2 separate regions of the Homo sapiens genome follow, and region 2 is linked to region 1. The links come from fine-mapping of genetic effects on gene expression. A gene starts in region 1. The other region holds a variant in brackets. All regions are shown on one strand. Distances are between the middles of the regions.

Region 1 (8,604 bases):
GTCACCTTTCATGGATGAAGCAAAGTCCTTCAAAATGTCAATAGAAAGTTAGCCTTTGTACACAGCAAATCCTATATGGATTTAACTTTGAAAGGACTATAGTGCAATTACACTAAGACAATAAACTAACCCAAGTAGTTAGAATTTAAAACAAAGATCTAAATCTTATAAATGTTTTGTTTGTCCTCATTCAAAATTGCAGGTTAAAGCAAATGTGTGCGTTAAGCTAGATAAGATGACTGAATTGCTTTGATGATCTGATAGCATTCTCTGTTCTTCTTATTTTCTCTCCTTCTTTAGAAATATATATATATTCCTCCAAAGATAGTTTATATGACAAAATAACTACAGTTTTTCTCAAACAGGGGCCTGTCCACTTTCAACATAGGCCAGTATTTCTACTCAAAGGCTTAAAAAGTTTCTTCTTTCCGGAGCACATTCTTGTGAATATAACTTGGCCCCTTGGTTGGTGGTGGTTTATTTTTCCCCCCAAACTCATTTGCTCTTGTAAATCTCCTGCTAATCATATTTAGTCATGAAAATTCTTTCATGGGGTGAGAGATTTAAAATCGTAGATTACACAAAGATGGAAAAACACAAACAAACCAGTAGCAGATACCAATGTGGCACAGCAAAACACTTAAATCCAACTTCTCTGTTCAATTTGTCTCAATCCAGGGCACCTCAGATCATTCCTTAGTCTCAAACTAGTATTAAAAATGGCTAATTTCCAGCCTCTTTGGCCTCTGTAATTGCCAATGGGATAATCCTTCTTTCTCTAGGCACCCAGTACTTTATTTCCTAAATTCCAATCACAGCAGAGATTTTTCAACATCCCTGCCGCTAGGACAGATCCCCCAAATGACACATGTAATGAAACTTTATGAAGTTAAGAAGTGCAAAACTCAACCTGTGGGTGCTGTTCTGCTGCCAGTGAGGGAGTCCATTTTACTTGTGCCCAATGTTGTTTTTGTCTTTGATTTACATAGTGAAACTAAAAGCACATTGTTCACAGACTACCAAGAAACTTTTGCGTTTTCACTTTCCCTGGGCTATTTTTATACACAAAGCAAATATTCTAACAGACAACTCTGTTGCCCTTAATGGGATATTTTTACTATTAGGTTGGACTGGCTTTCAGTATGCCAATAGGTCATTTTCTTTCTGCCAGTTTTTAGGAAATCCAGTTCTGAGGGTTCAGGCTATAAATTTAGCTTAGATCTAGAAATGGTTTACTTGTTAGAAAAACAGATATATCATTGTCGCCATTGATTTGAGCTTCCTTGACCACGCAGTGGCTGTCTCTCCCTTTAACTTACTGATGGAATTCAATTTATCAAGTCCTATTAAACTTGAACCATGCAGTTAGCATTGAAAAACTGCTTCCATCTAAAATTGGACTGAAGCCAGGTGCATTGGCACGTGCCCATAGTCCGAGCTACTCAGGAGGCTGAGGCAAGAGGATCACTTGGGCCCAGCAGTTCAGTTTGAGGCCAGACTGAGCAACAAAGCTAGGCTGCATCTCTAAAGAGAGAGAAAAAAAAAAAAGGACCATAAACACAAGCTAATCATAAAACAACACAAATCTAGGTTTGAGAAATACTCAAAGACTGTAAAAGATCATTCACAAAATCTTGTCTCTAACCCAGAGAAGAAGATAGATAAGTTGGTAGATAGATGTAAATGTGTGTTCAAATAATCATGCACACAGTTATGTAGATGCACACACACATCTTTAAAATCCATTCTATCAGTGAATAACTTTGAGTCTCATAACACCTTGTATCTGTGTATTATTTTAAATTAAGAAGGGCTTCATGGTTGTATTAAGATTCATGGTTAAGAGCACAGGCATTGGGCCCCATGGGTTTGAGTTCCTGTTCTGGCACACTGACCCTGCATATGTTACACAACATCTCTAGGCCTTTCTTTTTTCATTATAAGATACAGGTAATTATATCTACTTCCTAGGCTTGTGGTGAGGATTAAATGAGAGAATATACATGACAACAAAAACTATACTACCACATAATATCTAGCATAAAGAAGATGCTCAAAATTGGTAGTTCTTTCTATTATTCCTTAGGGCTATATCATTTGTCACTAGGTCAAGAAGTCTTCTACATAATCAAATTTAAATTCAGCAAATAATTTTGGAGCAAAGATGAATGTAACAGACTTGGCTCACAGAGTAAATTACCAATATACACGAAGACTGTTAGCTGTAGATTTGTGTTTTCAAATCAGAACACAAACGGTTGGACGATAGGGAATTTGGGACATTATTATTTCAATAAACAAGCCCACTGACCTCAGAGTTACAGTAAATGATTATTTTGGCTTAAATACTACCTATGCTATTATCTCAAAAAACATACCTGGAAGTAGAAGAACTGTGATTTAAGAAACATTCTTCATTCCTGGAATTCATCAATCATTTATCATTTTTCAAAGAAAAAATTGGCCCAAACATGAAAAAACTAGTTAAAATTTAATAAACCTAAGTGATACTAGATTGAATGCAGGGCCAATGTAGACCGCTAAATCACTGTTGACCATTTTTTTTTCTCAGAGAGCAAGCATCTTGTCTTATATGATTTGGATTTAGGACTTGAGATTGTAGTAAAAGGAAATTATTTTCTCTAAAATTGTGATAACACATCTGGATTCCAATATAAGTCAGTTAAAAGCCTGTAATACAAGTATTCCACTTCTAAAATGGGATAAGATAGAATTTCTAATGTCCTCAATTTAAATGTTTATCAACTTTGTGAATATTATATATCTTAACACAACCAATGAAACTTTATGACATTAAGGAGCTCAGAACCCAACCTGTGGCTGCATGAATTGTTACCCTAAATTCAACAAACTAATATTTTATGGTCTTCAGCAAAAAGAACCACAAAGACATGCTCTGTCTAAACACACTTTGCTTGAACATTCTTACAGATAGGAAGTATACCTTCTCACAAGGCATGCAATCCATTTATATTATCATTTGATCTTTGATTGGTAAAATCAATTTGGATAGAATTTCCTAAACTAAACGACCAGGTGCTTTCTTCTCTGGGGAATCTTACAGAAGGAGACTGCAGTTAGTTGCAACAGATTTTTTATTAAAGAGAATTTCTGTAGCTAGAACAACAAAGCTTGTTCCCTGTGAACCAAATCTACCAATAATAGCTCTATTAAAAGAGTTTCCTATTTACATAGATTTTATACCAAATATATTTGGTAATTCATAAACCTTACAAACATTTACTTAACACTTACCATGAATTGGGTAATGTGCTCAACACATTATCCCACTAAATCTTAGTAATAGCCCTATTAAGTAAATACCATATCATAAGTATTATCTCTCTTTTACTGACATGGATAATGGAACTCAAGGAGATTGAGTAACTTGTACTGAATCACACAGCCAGTAAATTGTAAAGATGGGACTCAAACCTAGGGAGATGGACTCCAGAGCCTTAACAACTATTTATTTATACATTCTCCAATTGAGCTACACACTTCTTGAAGGCAAAGGCAATGCCTGAGTCACCTTTCATGTTCAAATCATATTAAAAAGTTAGCAAGATGTAATTATCAGTGTACTATGTAAATCTTTGTGAATGATCAATAATTACATATTTTCATTATATATATTTTAGTAGATAATATTTATATACATTCAACATTCTAAATATAGAAAGTTTACAGAGAAAAATAAAGCCTTTTTTTCCAATCCTGTCCTCCACCTCTGCATCCCATTCTTCTTCACAGAGGCAACTGATTCAAGTCATTACATAGTTATTGAGTGTTAACTACAACTATGTTAAGTACAGCTATATATGTTAGATGCCGTAGCCACAGAAATCAGTTTACAATCTAATGCAGTGGATACAGCATGTATACATATAATATAAGGTTGCTACAAATGCTATCTGAGGTAGAGCTGTTTGAAAGAATACTAATACTTAAATGTTTAATTCAACTGACTTGATTGACAACTGATTAGCTGAGTGGAAAAGATGGATGAGAAAGATTGTGAGACTTAATTGGCTGGTGGTATGGTGATATGATTGACAATAACTGCTAAGTCAGAGAGGGATATATTAAGGAGGAGAAGAAAAGCAACAAATCTGGTTTTGATGTGTTCACTTTGTTATAATTATTGATTATTTACTGAATATGAATATTTATCTTTGTTTTTGAGTCAATAAATATACCTTTGTAAAGACAGAATTAAAGTATTAGTATTTCTTTCAAACTGGAGGCATTTCTCCCACTAACATATTTCATCAAAACTTATAATAAGCTTGGTTCCAGAGGAAGAAATGAGGGATAACCAAAAATAGAGACATTAATAATAGTGTAACGCCCAGTGATAAATCTCAATAGGCAGTGATGACAGACATGTTTTCCCAAACACAAGGATGCTGTAAGGGCCAAACAGAAATGATGGCCCCTCCCCAGCACCTCATTTTGCCCCTTCCTTCAGCTATGCCTCTACTCTCCTTAGATACAAGGGAGGTGGATTTTTCTCTTCTCTGAGATAGCTTGATGGAACCACAGGAACAATGAAGTGGGCTCCTGGCTCTTTTCTCTGTGGCAGATGGGGTGCCATGCCCACCTTCAGACAAAGGGAAGATTGAGCTCAAAAGCTCCCTGAGAAGTGAGAGCCTATGAACATGGTTGACACAGAGGGACAGGAATGTATTTCCAGGGTCATTCATTCCTGGGAATAGTGAACTGGGACATGGGGGAAGTCAGTCTCCTCCTGCCACAGCCACAGATTAAAAATAATAATGTTAACTGATCCCTAGGCTAAAATAATAGTGTTAACTGATCCCTAAGCTAAGAAAGTTCTTTTGGTAATTCAGGTGATGGCAGCAGGACCCATCTTAAGGATAGACTAGGTTTGCTTAGTTCGAGGTCATATCTGTTTGCTCTCAGCCATGTACTGGAAGAAGTTGCATCACACAGCCTCCAGGACTGCCCTCCTCCTCACAGCAATGGATAATGCTTCACTAGCCTTTGCAGATAATTTTGGATCAGAGAAAAAACCTTGAGCTGGGCCAAAAAGGAGGAGCTTCAACCTGTGTGCAAAATCTGGGAACCTGACAGTATAGGTTGGGGGCCAGGATGAGGAAAAAGGAACGGGAAAGACCTGCCCACCCTTCTGGTAAGGAGGCCCCGTGATCAGCTCCAGCCATTTGCAGTCCTGGCTATCCCAGGAGCTTACATAAAGGGACAATTGGAGCCTGAGAGGTGACAGTGCTGACACTACAAGGCTCGGAGCTCCGGGCACTCAGACATCATGAGTTGGTCCTTGCACCCCCGGAATTTAATTCTCTACTTCTATGCTCTTTTATTTCTCTCTTCAACATGTGTAGCAGTAAGTGTGCTCTTCACAAAACGTTGTTTAAAATGGAAAGCTGGAAAATAAAACAGATAATAAACTAGTGAAATTTCTGTATTTTTTCTCTTTTAGTATGTTGCTACCAGAGACAACTGCTGCATCTTAGATGAAAGATTCGTAAGTAGTTTTTATGTTTCTCCCTTTGTGTGTGAACTGGAGAGGGGCAGAGGAATAGAAATAATTCCCTCATAAATATCATCTGGCACTTGTAACTTTTTAAAAACATAGTCTAGGTTTTACCTATTTTTCTTAATAGATTTTAAGAGTAGCATCTGTCTACATTTTTAATCACTGTTATATTTTCAGGGTAGTTATTGTCCAACTACCTGTGGCATTGCAGATTTCCTGTCTACTTATCAAACCAAAGTAGACAAGGATCTACAGTCTTTGGAAGACATCTTACATCAAGTTGAAAACAAAACATCAGAAGTCAAACAGCTGATAAAAGCAATCCAACTCACTTATAATCCTGATGAATCATCAAAACCAAGTGAGAAAATAAAGACTACTGACCAAAAAATAATAATAATAATCTGTGAAGTTCTTTTGCTGTTGTTTTAGTTGTTCTATTTGCTTAAGGATTTTTATGTCTCTGATCCTATATTACAGATATGATAGACGCTGCTACTTTGAAGTCCAGGAAAATGTTAGAAGAAATTATGAAATATGAAGCATCGATTTTAACACATGACTCAAGTATTCGGTAAGGATTTTTGTTTTAATTTGCTCTGCAAGACTGATTTAGTTTTTATTTAATATTCTATACTTGAGTGAAAGTAATTTTTAATGTGTTTTCCCCATTTATAATATCCCAGTGACATTATGCCTGATTATGTTGAGCATAGTAGAGATAGAAGTTTTTAGTGCAATATAAATTATACTGGGTTATAATTGCTTATTAATAATCACATTGAAGAAAGATGTTCTAGATGTCTTCAAATGCTAGTTTGACCATATTTATCAAAAATTTTTTCCCCATCCCCCATTTATCTTACAACATAAAATCAATCTCATAGGAATTTGGGTGTTGAAAATAAAATCCTCTTTATAAAAATGCTGACAAATTGGTGGTTAAAAAAATTAGCAAGCAGAGGCATAGTAAGGATTTTGGCTCCTAAAGTAAATTATATTGAATGTGGAGCAGGAAGAAACATGTCTTGAGAGACTAAGTGTGGCAAATATTGCAAAGCTCATATTGATCATTGCAGAATGAACCTGCATAGTCTCTTCCCTTCATTTGGAAGTGAATGTCTCTGTTAAAGCTTCTCAGGGACTCATAAACTTTCTGAACATAAGGTCTCAGATACAGTTTTAATATTTTTCCCCAATTTTTTTTTCTGAATTTTTCTCAAAGCAGCTTGAGAAATTGAGATAAATAGTAGCTAGGGAGAAGTGGCCCAGGAAAGATTTCTCCTCTTTTTGCTATCAGAGGGCCCTTGTTATTATTGTTATTATTATTACTTGCATTATTATTGTCCATCATTGAAGTTGAAGGAGGTTATTGTACAGAAATTGCCTAAGACAAGGTAGAGGGAAAACGTGGACAAATAGTTTGTCTACCCTTTTTTACTTCAAAGAAAGAACGGTTTATGCATTGTAGACAGTTTTCTATCATTTTTGGATATTTGCAAGCCACCCTGTAAGTAACTACAAAAGGAGGGTTTTTACTTCCCCCAGTCCATTCCCAAAGCTATGTAACCAGAAGCATTAAAGAAGAAAGGGGAAGTATCTGTTGTTTTATTTTACATACAATAACGTTCCAGATCATGTCCCTGTGTAAGTTATATTTTAGATTGAAGCTTATATGTATAGCCTCAGTAGATCCACAAGTGAAAGGTATACTCCTTCAGCACATGTGAATTACTGAACTGAGCTTTTCCTGCTTCTAAAGCATCAGGGGGTGTTCCTATTAACCAGTCCCGCCACTCTTGCAGGTTGCTATCTGCTGTCCCTTATGCATAAAGTAAAAAGCAAAATGTCAATGACATTTGCTTATTGACAAGGACTTTGTTATTTGTGTTGGGAGTTGAGACAATATGCCCCATTCTAAGTAAAAAGATTCAGGTCCACATTGTATTCCTGTTTTAATTGATTTTTTGATTTGTTTTTCTTTTTCAAAAAGTTTATAATTTTAATTCATGTTAATTTAGTAATATAATTTTACATTTTCCTCAAGAATGGAATAATTTATCAGAAAGCACTTCTTAAGAAAATACTTAGCAGTTTCCAAAGAAAATATAAAATTACTCTTCTGAAAGGAATACTTATTTTTGTCTTCTTATTTTTGTTATCTTATGTTTCTGTTTGTAGATATTTGCAGGAAATATATAATTCAAATAATCAAAAGATTGTTAACCTGAAAGAGAAGGTAGCCCAGCTTGAAGCACAGTGCCAGGAACCTTGCAAAGACACGGTGCAAATCCATGATATCACTGGGAAAGGTAACTGATGAAGGTTATATTGGGATTAGGTTCATCAAAGTAAGTAATGTAAAGGAGAAAGTATGTACTGGAAAGTATAGGAATAGTTTAGAAAGTGGCTACCCATTAAGTCTAAGAATTTCAGTTGTCTAGACCTTTCTTGAATAGCTAAAAAAAACAGTTTAAAAGGAATGCTGATGTGAAAAGTAAGAAAATTATTCTTGGAAAATGAATAGTTTACTACATGTTAAAAGCTATTTTTCAAGGCTGGCACAGTCTTACCTGCATTTCAAACCACAGTAAAAGTCGATTCTCCTTCTCTAGATTGTCAAGACATTGCCAATAAGGGAGCTAAACAGAGCGGGCTTTACTTTATTAAACCTCTGAAAGCTAACCAGCAATTCTTAGTCTACTGTGAAATCGATGGGTCTGGAAATGGATGGACTGTGTTTCAGAAGGTAATTTTTTCCCCACCATGTGTATTTAATAAATTCCTACATTGTTTCTGCCATATGGCAGATACTTTTCTAAGCACCTTGTGAACCGTAGCTCATTTAATCCTTGCAATAGCCCTAAGAGGAAGGTACTTCTGTTACTCCTATTTACAGAAAAGGAAACTGAGGCACACAAGGTTAAATAACTTGCCCAAGACCACATAACTAATAAGCAACAGAGTCAGCATTTGAACCTAGGCAGTATAGTTTCAGAGTTTGTGACTTGACTCTATATTGTACTGGCACTGACTTTGTAGATTCATGGTGGCACATAATC
Region 2 (8,604 bases), 23 kb after region 1:
TATACAATTGCAAATATATAGATAACTGGTTATATATTTTACTTTTCCTGTGGAAGCTGTGATGAGTAGATATAGTTTAAAACTGAAACATATAGCTATAGAATTTCTACTCTTTCTGTATACATTATATACCACACAAATAAAGCTATTAAAACTAGTAAAAACTATTCTAGTCATGCCAAAAGTTATGGCATAACAAATGTGTAAATTCCTGCATTCAAATGTTTATATTAACATTTATATTTAAATGTTTATATTACATTAACTTCAAAAGGATAGATATATCAAACATCCTTCTCATTAGAGCTAAGGTAAATAGGATGTAGTTATCTATAGGAAAAAGACAAACCTGGTGCAGTAGCTCATGCCTGTAATCCCAGCACTTTGGGAGGCTGAAGTGGGTGGAGCACCTCAGGTCAGGAGTTCAAGACCAGCCTGGTCAACATGGGGAAACCCTATCTCTACTAAAAATACAAAAAATTAGCCAGTCATGGTGGTGGGCACCTGTAATCCCAGCTACTCAGGAGGCTGAGGCAGGAAAATCGCTTGAACCCGGGAGGCAGAGGTTGCAGTAAGCTGAGATGGCGCTGTTGCACTCCAGCCTGGGTGGCAGAGTGAGACTCCATCTCAAAAAGAAAAAGCCAATGCACGGCAGATTATAATTTAAGCAACTGAAAATTTCTTCCATCTTTTTTCCAGTTTTGCACATTTAAAGATACGCTTATTGTCACATGCTTTTTAAAAAATGATACTCGTATCATGCCTATTAATTTGCATGGTTTTCCAGCTAAACAAAACCTACTCCTCCAAAGCTTACAATACAGCCTGTTCATGGGGCAGAGAGCCCAGCCTAGTGAGCAGCCTGCAGTGTGGGGCCAAACAGTGAGCTACAGAAGTGCCTCATTAGGGACTCCTGGTACTACAGTCAAAACAAGGGAACATTTTATCATGGAGCATTGGGATATTCTAGGAACAATAAAAGCTACTGTTTCTAGAGCTCCTGCTGTGTATGGCCAACATTTTACATACACCATTTTACATAATCTTCACAGCAATCCTGTAAGACAAATATCATCATCCCATTTATAGCTCAGAGAATTTAAATAGTTTGCCCATGTCACTTAGCTGGAATCCAGGTCTCACATGCTGGAAAGCCCACCATGCATTGTCACCACCATATGGTGACAGCCTTCCATTTCTCCAGCAGATACTGAGCAGCAATTGCTCTATGCCTGACATTTGTGCCAGTCCTTGTGCCTTGGCCTCAGGAAGCTTTGTGTAGGCAAGACACAGAATAAACAAATACCTTCCCAAATGCACATTGTCCAGGAGTTATAAGGTACTGCGTGGAAAAACCAAGCAGAGTCAATGGAATGACATGCGAGAGTGGCAGCTCTTTAGATCAGGTGGCCAGAGAAGGCCTCTCTGAGTAGATGCCATGTGAGCAGAGGCCAGGAGTAAGAAAGGGTGTGAGATGTGCTGATTCTGAGAGGCAAGGATAAAGCCCTCAGGTGGCATCCTTGGAAACACCCTGACATGGCACTAGGGTGGTGGCATTCAACCAAATTGTTTTCTGTTAATTTACCTTCAATCAGATTATGTTCAGCCGACTCACCTAAGGCCTACCAGGTTACTCTCGGGAACTTCTTTGCTATATACCATGTTCACCTCCCAAAGGGGCACTTCTTGTGGGCATAGGAAAATGTGTGCAGAGATCAAGCCTCACCTTCCTATCTAATCCTGACATTTTGCCAGTGCAGTCATTGTGAGTGAGTGTAACCCAGCTTTTCATGGAATCATTGCCCTCTGGAACCTGGATGGGGCTCTGGGGCTTCCTCTTTGCTCTGCAGTTAACTCTAAAATCATAGCAAGCTGCTTCAGGGGTGAGCTTGATCAGACAAGGAGTCTTCCATAGAGCAGACAGTGCACTGCCTTGCACCAGGGCTTCCATCCATTTATAGAAAGCTTCACACGTCTGCAGTGCTGGGGGAGGCAGCCAGGCAACTTCGCATCTCTGGAACCCACTTATGCTTTCTTGCTCAATGAGGGCCCACACCTTTTGGGGAGAATATAAAGACCAATAAAACATTTCAATTCTCAAGTTTATGATCTAGTGGAGGAGACAGACGGTACTCCTATAATGATAAATGCCATTAGTGGTGCACAGTCTAAGGAAGTATGAAAGAACATGAGATTCCTTTTAATTGGACATTGAATCAGGTACCCTGCAAAATGTCTAGCAAAGAACCCAAGACTTAGTAAACATTCAATACACATTAGCTATTACTCTATTAGGATTGGCTTCATGTAGGAAGCAGAATTTGAGGCAAGGTAGGATTGCCAGATAAAGTACAGGATGTCCAGTAAAGTTTGAATTTCAGATGAACAACAAAAAAATTTTAAGTGTGTCTCAAATATCACATGAGACATACTTATACTCAAATAGATTTGTTGTTTATCTGAAATTCAAATTTAACTGGGACACTCTTATTTTTATTTGCTATTTCCGCCAACCTAATACATCTGGTAAATGTAAGCTGAAGATGTTTTTTACCTTTATTGAAGTATAATTGACAAATAAAAATTGCATAATTTAGGTTGTACAGCTGGATGTTTGTTTTTTTATTTTCCTTTAAAGGGGAACTTCTCTCTGATTGGTGTTTTGATACACATAAACATTGTGAAATGATTACCACTATTAATCTAATTAGCACTTAAAACACCTCATATAGTTATCTTTTTGTGTGGTGAGAAGACTTAAGATCTACCTTTTTAGCAAATTTCAAATATACAGCATAATATTATCAACTATAGTCACCATGCTGCACATTGGACTCCAGAACTTATTTATATTGCATAGCTCAAACTTTGTGCCCTCTAACCAACATCTCCCCCATTTCTCCTATGCCTCAGGCCCTGGCCACCACCATTCTACACTTTTCTTCCGTGAGTTTGACTATTTTAGATTTCACATGTAAGAAAGATCATACAGTATTTGTCTTTCTTTTCCGTTTTTTTTTTTTTTTTTGAGAAGGAGTCTCACTCTGTGGCCCAGGCTGGAGTGCAATGATGCAATCTCGGCTCACTGCAACCTCCTCCACCTCCCGCGTTCAAGTGATTCTCCCTGCCTCAGCCTCCTGAGTAGCTGGGATTACAGGTGCCTGTCACCACGACCAGCTAAGCAGTATTTGTCTGTCTATATCTGCTCATTTCACTTAGGATAATGCCCTCTAGGTTCATCAATGTTACTGCAAATGACAGAATTTCCTTCTTTTTCAAGGCTGAGTAATACTCCATTGTGTATATATATATATACACATTTTCTTTATCTACTCATCCATCAGTGGAAACAGGTTGTTTTCATATCTCGGCTATTGTCAATATAGCTACAATGAACATGGGAATGCAGGTGTCTCTTCAAGATCCTGATTTCATTTCCTTTGGAAATACACTCAGAAATGAGATTGCTAGCACAGAAACAGGAAATAAATGGTATTTTTCATGGCACTTTATGATCTCCCATAATTCACTGAGTATTTCCTATGTGACAGTCACTGTTCTGAGAGATTTACAAGAATTAACTCATTTATTCTTCATAAAAGCATGGGGTAGCTTATCAGCATCCTTATTTTATAAATGAGGAAACTGAAGTATAAAGAGGTAAAGTAACTTGTCCAAGAACATAGAGCAGGGAAGTGGTGCAGCTTGGATTATGAACCCAAGATGTTTTGTTCCTGGGGCTGCTGTCATCTTAATATTTTAAATAGAGAAAAGTAATATGTTCTAAATAAACTTATAGAAAGCCTTCAGGGCCAGCTTATCCCCAAAGTTATTTTTTTTATAAGCCAGATCACCCAACCCTAATTTCTGCATAAAGTGAAATATTGTTTGCTAAATCACTACTACTGGGGGCTACAGCTAGCTTACCTAAGCACCTTCTATATTCTTTCACGTTTAGAAATATGGATATACCCTCCTATGCTCCTCTTTTCATTCTCAAAGCCACCCTGTTCCTGGAATGTGAGATCTCCTAATTGTTGACTGGAGAATCAAATGCTACCTTTGCAACAGCTTATCGGAAGCAAACAAGCTGAGGGGAATTGAGCAAGAATTTCTGGGATACCAACAGCATAGGAGGAACAAAGGACGTAGAGGGAGGGTTGACTGTCTACACAGGACAAAGCCAATGATTAACCAAACCTCTTGCAGATTTAAATAGGATGGGAACTAGGAGTGGC[A/G]GCAATCCTTTCTTTCAGCTGGAGTGCTCCTCAGGAGCCAGCCCCACCCTTAGAAAAGATGTTTTCCATGAGGATCGTCTGCCTGGTCCTAAGTGTGGTGGGCACAGCATGGGTATGGCCCTTTTCATTTTTTCTTCTTGCTTTCTCTCTGGTGTTTATTCCACAAAGAGCCTGGAGGTCAGAGTCTACCTGCTCTATGTCCTGACACACTCTTAGCTTTATGACCCCAGGCCTGGGAGGAAATTTCCTGGGTGGGCTTGACACCTCAAGAATACAGGGTAATATGACACCAAGAGGAAGATCTTAGATGGATGAGAGTGTACAAACTCACAAGGGAAACTTTAGCATCTGTCATTCAGTCTTACCACATTTTGTTTTGTTTTGTTTTAAAAAGGGCAAGAATTATTTGCCATCCTTGTACCTATAAAGCCTTGGTGCATTATAATGCTAGTTAATGGAATAAAACATTTTATGGTAAGATTTGTTTTCTTTAGTTATTAATTTCTTGCTACTTGTCCATAATAAGCAGAACTTTTAGTGTTAGTACAGTTTTGCTGAAAGGTTATTGTTGTGTTTGTCAAGACAGAAGAAAAAGCAAACGAATTATCTTTGGAAATATCTTTGCAGTATCAGAAGAGATTAGTTAGTAAGGCAATACGCTTTTCCGCAGTAATGGTATTCTTTTAAATTATGAATCCATCTCTAAAGGTTACATAGAAACTTGAAGGAGAGAGGAACATTCAGTTAAGATAGTCTAGGTTTTTCTACTGAAGCAGCAATTACAGGAGAAAGAGCTCTACAGTAGTTTTCAACTTTCTGTCTGCAGTCATTAGTAAAAATGAAAAGGTAAAATTTAACTGATTTTATAGATTCAAATAATTTTCCTTTTAGGATGGATTCTTTAAAACTCCTAATATTTATCAAATGCTTATTTAAGTGTCACACACAGTTAAGAAATTTGTACACCTTGTCTCCTTTAATTCTCATAACAACTCCATAAAATGGGTCCTAGGATTTCCATTTGAAGATAAGAAACCTGAAGCTTGCCGAAGCCCTGTGTCTGCTCTCCTTAATCTCTGTGAGAGTGCCATCTCTTCCTGGGGACTTGTAGGCATGCCACTGTCTCCTCTTCTGGCTAACATTGCTGTTGCTCTCTTTTGTGTATGTGAATGAATCTTTAAAGACTGCAGATAGTGGTGAAGGTGACTTTCTAGCTGAAGGAGGAGGCGTGCGTGGCCCAAGGGTTGTGGAAAGACATCAATCTGCCTGCAAAGATTCAGACTGGCCCTTCTGCTCTGATGAAGACTGGGTAAGCAGTCAGCGGGGGAAGCAGGAGATTCCTTCCCTCTGATGCTAGAGGGGCTCACAGGCTGACCTGATTGGTCCCAGAAACTTTTTTAAATAGAAAATAATTGAATAGTTACCTACATAGCAAATAAAGAAAAGGAACCTACTCCCAAGAGCACTGTTTATTTACCTCCCCAACTCTGGATCATTAGTGGGTGAACAGACAGGATTTCAGTTGCATGCTCAGGCAAAACCAGGCTCCTGAGTATTGTGGCCTCAATTTCCTGGCACCTAATTTATGGCTAAGTGGACCCTCATTCCAGAGTTTCTCTGCGACCTCTAACTAGTCCTCTTACCTACTTTTAAGCCAACTTATCTGGAAGAGATAGGGTAGGAAGAAATGGGGGCTGCATGGAAACATGCAAAATTATTCTGAATCTGAGAGATAGATCCTTACTGTAATTTTCTCCCTTCACTTTCAGAACTACAAATGCCCTTCTGGCTGCAGGATGAAAGGGTTGATTGATGAAGTCAATCAAGATTTTACAAACAGAATAAATAAGCTCAAAAATTCACTATTTGAATATCAGAAGAACAATAAGGATTCTCATTCGTTGACCACTAATATAATGGAAATTTTGAGAGGCGATTTTTCCTCAGCCAATAGTAAGTATTACATATTTACTGCTTTGACTTTATAACAGAAACAACAAAAATCCTAAATAAATATGATATCCGCTTATATCTATGACAATTTCATCCCAAAGTACTTAGTGTAGAAACACATACCTTCATAATATCCCTGAAAATTTTAAGAGGGAGCTTTTGTTTTCGTTATTTTTTCAAAGTAAAAGATGTTAACTGAGATTGTTTAAGGTCACAAAATAAGTCAGAATTTTGGATTAAAAACAAGAATTTAAATGTGTTCTTTTCAACAGTATATACTGAAAGTAGGATGGGTCAGACTCTTTGAGTTGATATTTTTGTTTCTGCTTTGTAAAGGTGAAAACTGAGAGGTCAAGGAACTTGTTCAAAGACACAGAGCTGGGAATTCAACTCCCAGACTCCACTGAGCTGATTAGGTAGATTTTTAAATTTAAAATATAGGGTCAAGCTACGTCATTCTCACAGTCTACTCATTAGGGTTAGGAAACATTGCATTCACTCTGGGCATGGACAGCGAGTCTAGGGAGTCCTCAGTTTCTCAAGTTTTGCTTTGCCTTTTTACACCTTCACAAACACTTGACATTTAAAATCAGTGATGCAACACTAGCTGGCAAGTGAGTGATCCTGTTGACCCAAAACAGCTTAGGAACCATTTCAAATCTATAGATTAAAAAGAAAAGCTCATCAGTAAGAAAATCCAATATGTTCAAGTCCCTTGATTAAGGATGTTATAAAATAATTGAAATGCAATCAAACCAACTATTTTAACTCCAAATTACACCTTTAAAATTCCAAAGAAAGTTCTTCTTCTATATTTCTTTGGGATTACTAATTGCTATTAGGACATCTTAACTGGCATTCATGGAAGGCTGCAGGGCATAACATTATCCAAAAGTCAAATGCCCCATAGGTTTTGAACTCACAGATTAAACTGTAACCAAAATAAAATTAGGCATATTTACAAGCTAGTTTCTTTCTTTCTTTTTTCTCTTTCTTTCTTTCTTTCTTTCTTTCTTTCTTTCTTTCTTTCTTTCTTTCTTTCTTTCTCCTTCCTTCCTTTCTTCCTTTCTTTTTTGCTGGCAATTACAGACAAATCACTCAGCAGCTACTTCAATAACCATATTTTCGATTTCAGACCGTGATAATACCTACAACCGAGTGTCAGAGGATCTGAGAAGCAGAATTGAAGTCCTGAAGCGCAAAGTCATAGAAAAAGTACAGCATATCCAGCTTCTGCAGAAAAATGTTAGAGCTCAGTTGGTTGATATGAAACGACTGGAGGTAAGTATGTGGCTGTGGTCCCAGATGTCCTTGTTTCTGAGTAGAGGGAAAAGGAAGGCGATAGTTATGCACTGAGTGTCTACTATATGCAGAGAAAAGTGTTATATCCATCATCTACCTAAAAGTAGGTATTATTTTCCTCACTCCACAGTTGAAGAAAAAAAATTCAGAGATATTAAGTAAATTTTCCAACGGTACATAGATAGTAAATTTCAAAAGCAAATGTTCAGTCCCTGTCTAATTCCAAAGCCCATTACATCACCACACCTCTGAGCCCTCAGCCTGAGTTTCACCAAGGATCATTTAATTAGCGTTTCCTTTGAGAGGGAATAGCACCTTACTCTTGATCCATTCTGAGGCTAAGATGAATTAAACAGCATCCATTGCTTATCCTGGCTAGCCCTGCAATACCCAACATCTCTTCCACTGAGGGTGCTCGATAGGCAGAAAACAGAGAATATTAAGTGGTAGGTCTCCGAGTCAAAAAAAATGAAACCAGTTTCCAGAAGGAAAATTAACTACCAGGAACTCAATAGACGTAGTTTATGTATTTGTATCTACATTTTCTCTTTATTTTTCTCCCCTCTCTCTAGGTGGACATTGATATTAAGATCCGATCTTGTCGAGGGTCATGCAGTAGGGCTTTAGCTCGTGAAGTAGATCTGAAGGACTATGAAGATCAGCAGAAGCAACTTGAACAGGTCATTGCCAAAGACTTACTTCCCTCTAGAGATAGGCAACACTTACCACTGATAAAAATGAAACCAGTTCCAGACTTGGTTCCCGGAAATTTTAAGAGCCAGCTTCAGAAGGTACCCCCAGAGTGGAAGGCATTAACAGACATGCCGCAGATGAGAATGGAGTTAGAGAGACCTGGTGGAAATGAGATTACTCGAGGAGGCTCCACCTCTTATGGAACCGGATCAGAGACGGAAAGCCCCAGGAACCCTAGCAGTGCTGGAAGCTGGAACTCTGGGAGCTCTGGACCTGGAAGTACTGGAAACCGAAACCCTGGGAGCTCTGGGACTGGAGGGACTGCAACCTGGAAACCTGGGAGCTCTGGACCTGGAAGTACTGGAAGCTGGAACTCTGGGAGCTCTGGAACTGGAAGTACTGGAAACCAAAACCCTGG

Alleles and levels. Positions count from the first base shown, and alleles are read on the strand shown. Sizes are in standard deviations (SD) of each study's normalised expression.
As copies of G replace A in region 2, the expression in lung of the gene that starts at base 5,265 in region 1 goes up (small effect, 0.26 SD a copy in GTEx).

The links.
Region 2: its variant is fine-mapped to the expression of FGG in lung (GTEx, PIP 0.94).

The regions. Positions count from the first base shown.
Region 1 is chr4:154,609,317-154,617,920 of GRCh38, reverse strand. It overlaps FGG (fibrinogen gamma chain), which reads left to right and starts at 5,265. Exons shown (of 9, transcript NM_021870.3): 1 at 5,265-5,389; 2 at 5,486-5,530; 3 at 5,720-5,903; 4 at 6,023-6,116; 5 at 7,724-7,854; 6 at 8,158-8,291. The coding sequence starts at 5,312. RefSeq lists enhancers at 916-1,065, 4,051-5,223.
Region 2 is chr4:154,586,380-154,594,983 of GRCh38, reverse strand. FGA (fibrinogen alpha chain) reads left to right here and starts at 4,242. Exons shown (of 5, transcript NM_021871.4): 1 at 4,242-4,350; 2 at 5,422-5,547; 3 at 6,008-6,191; 4 at 7,327-7,472; 5 at 8,066-8,604. The coding sequence starts at 4,297. The variant A/G (reference allele first, on the strand shown) is at 4,239.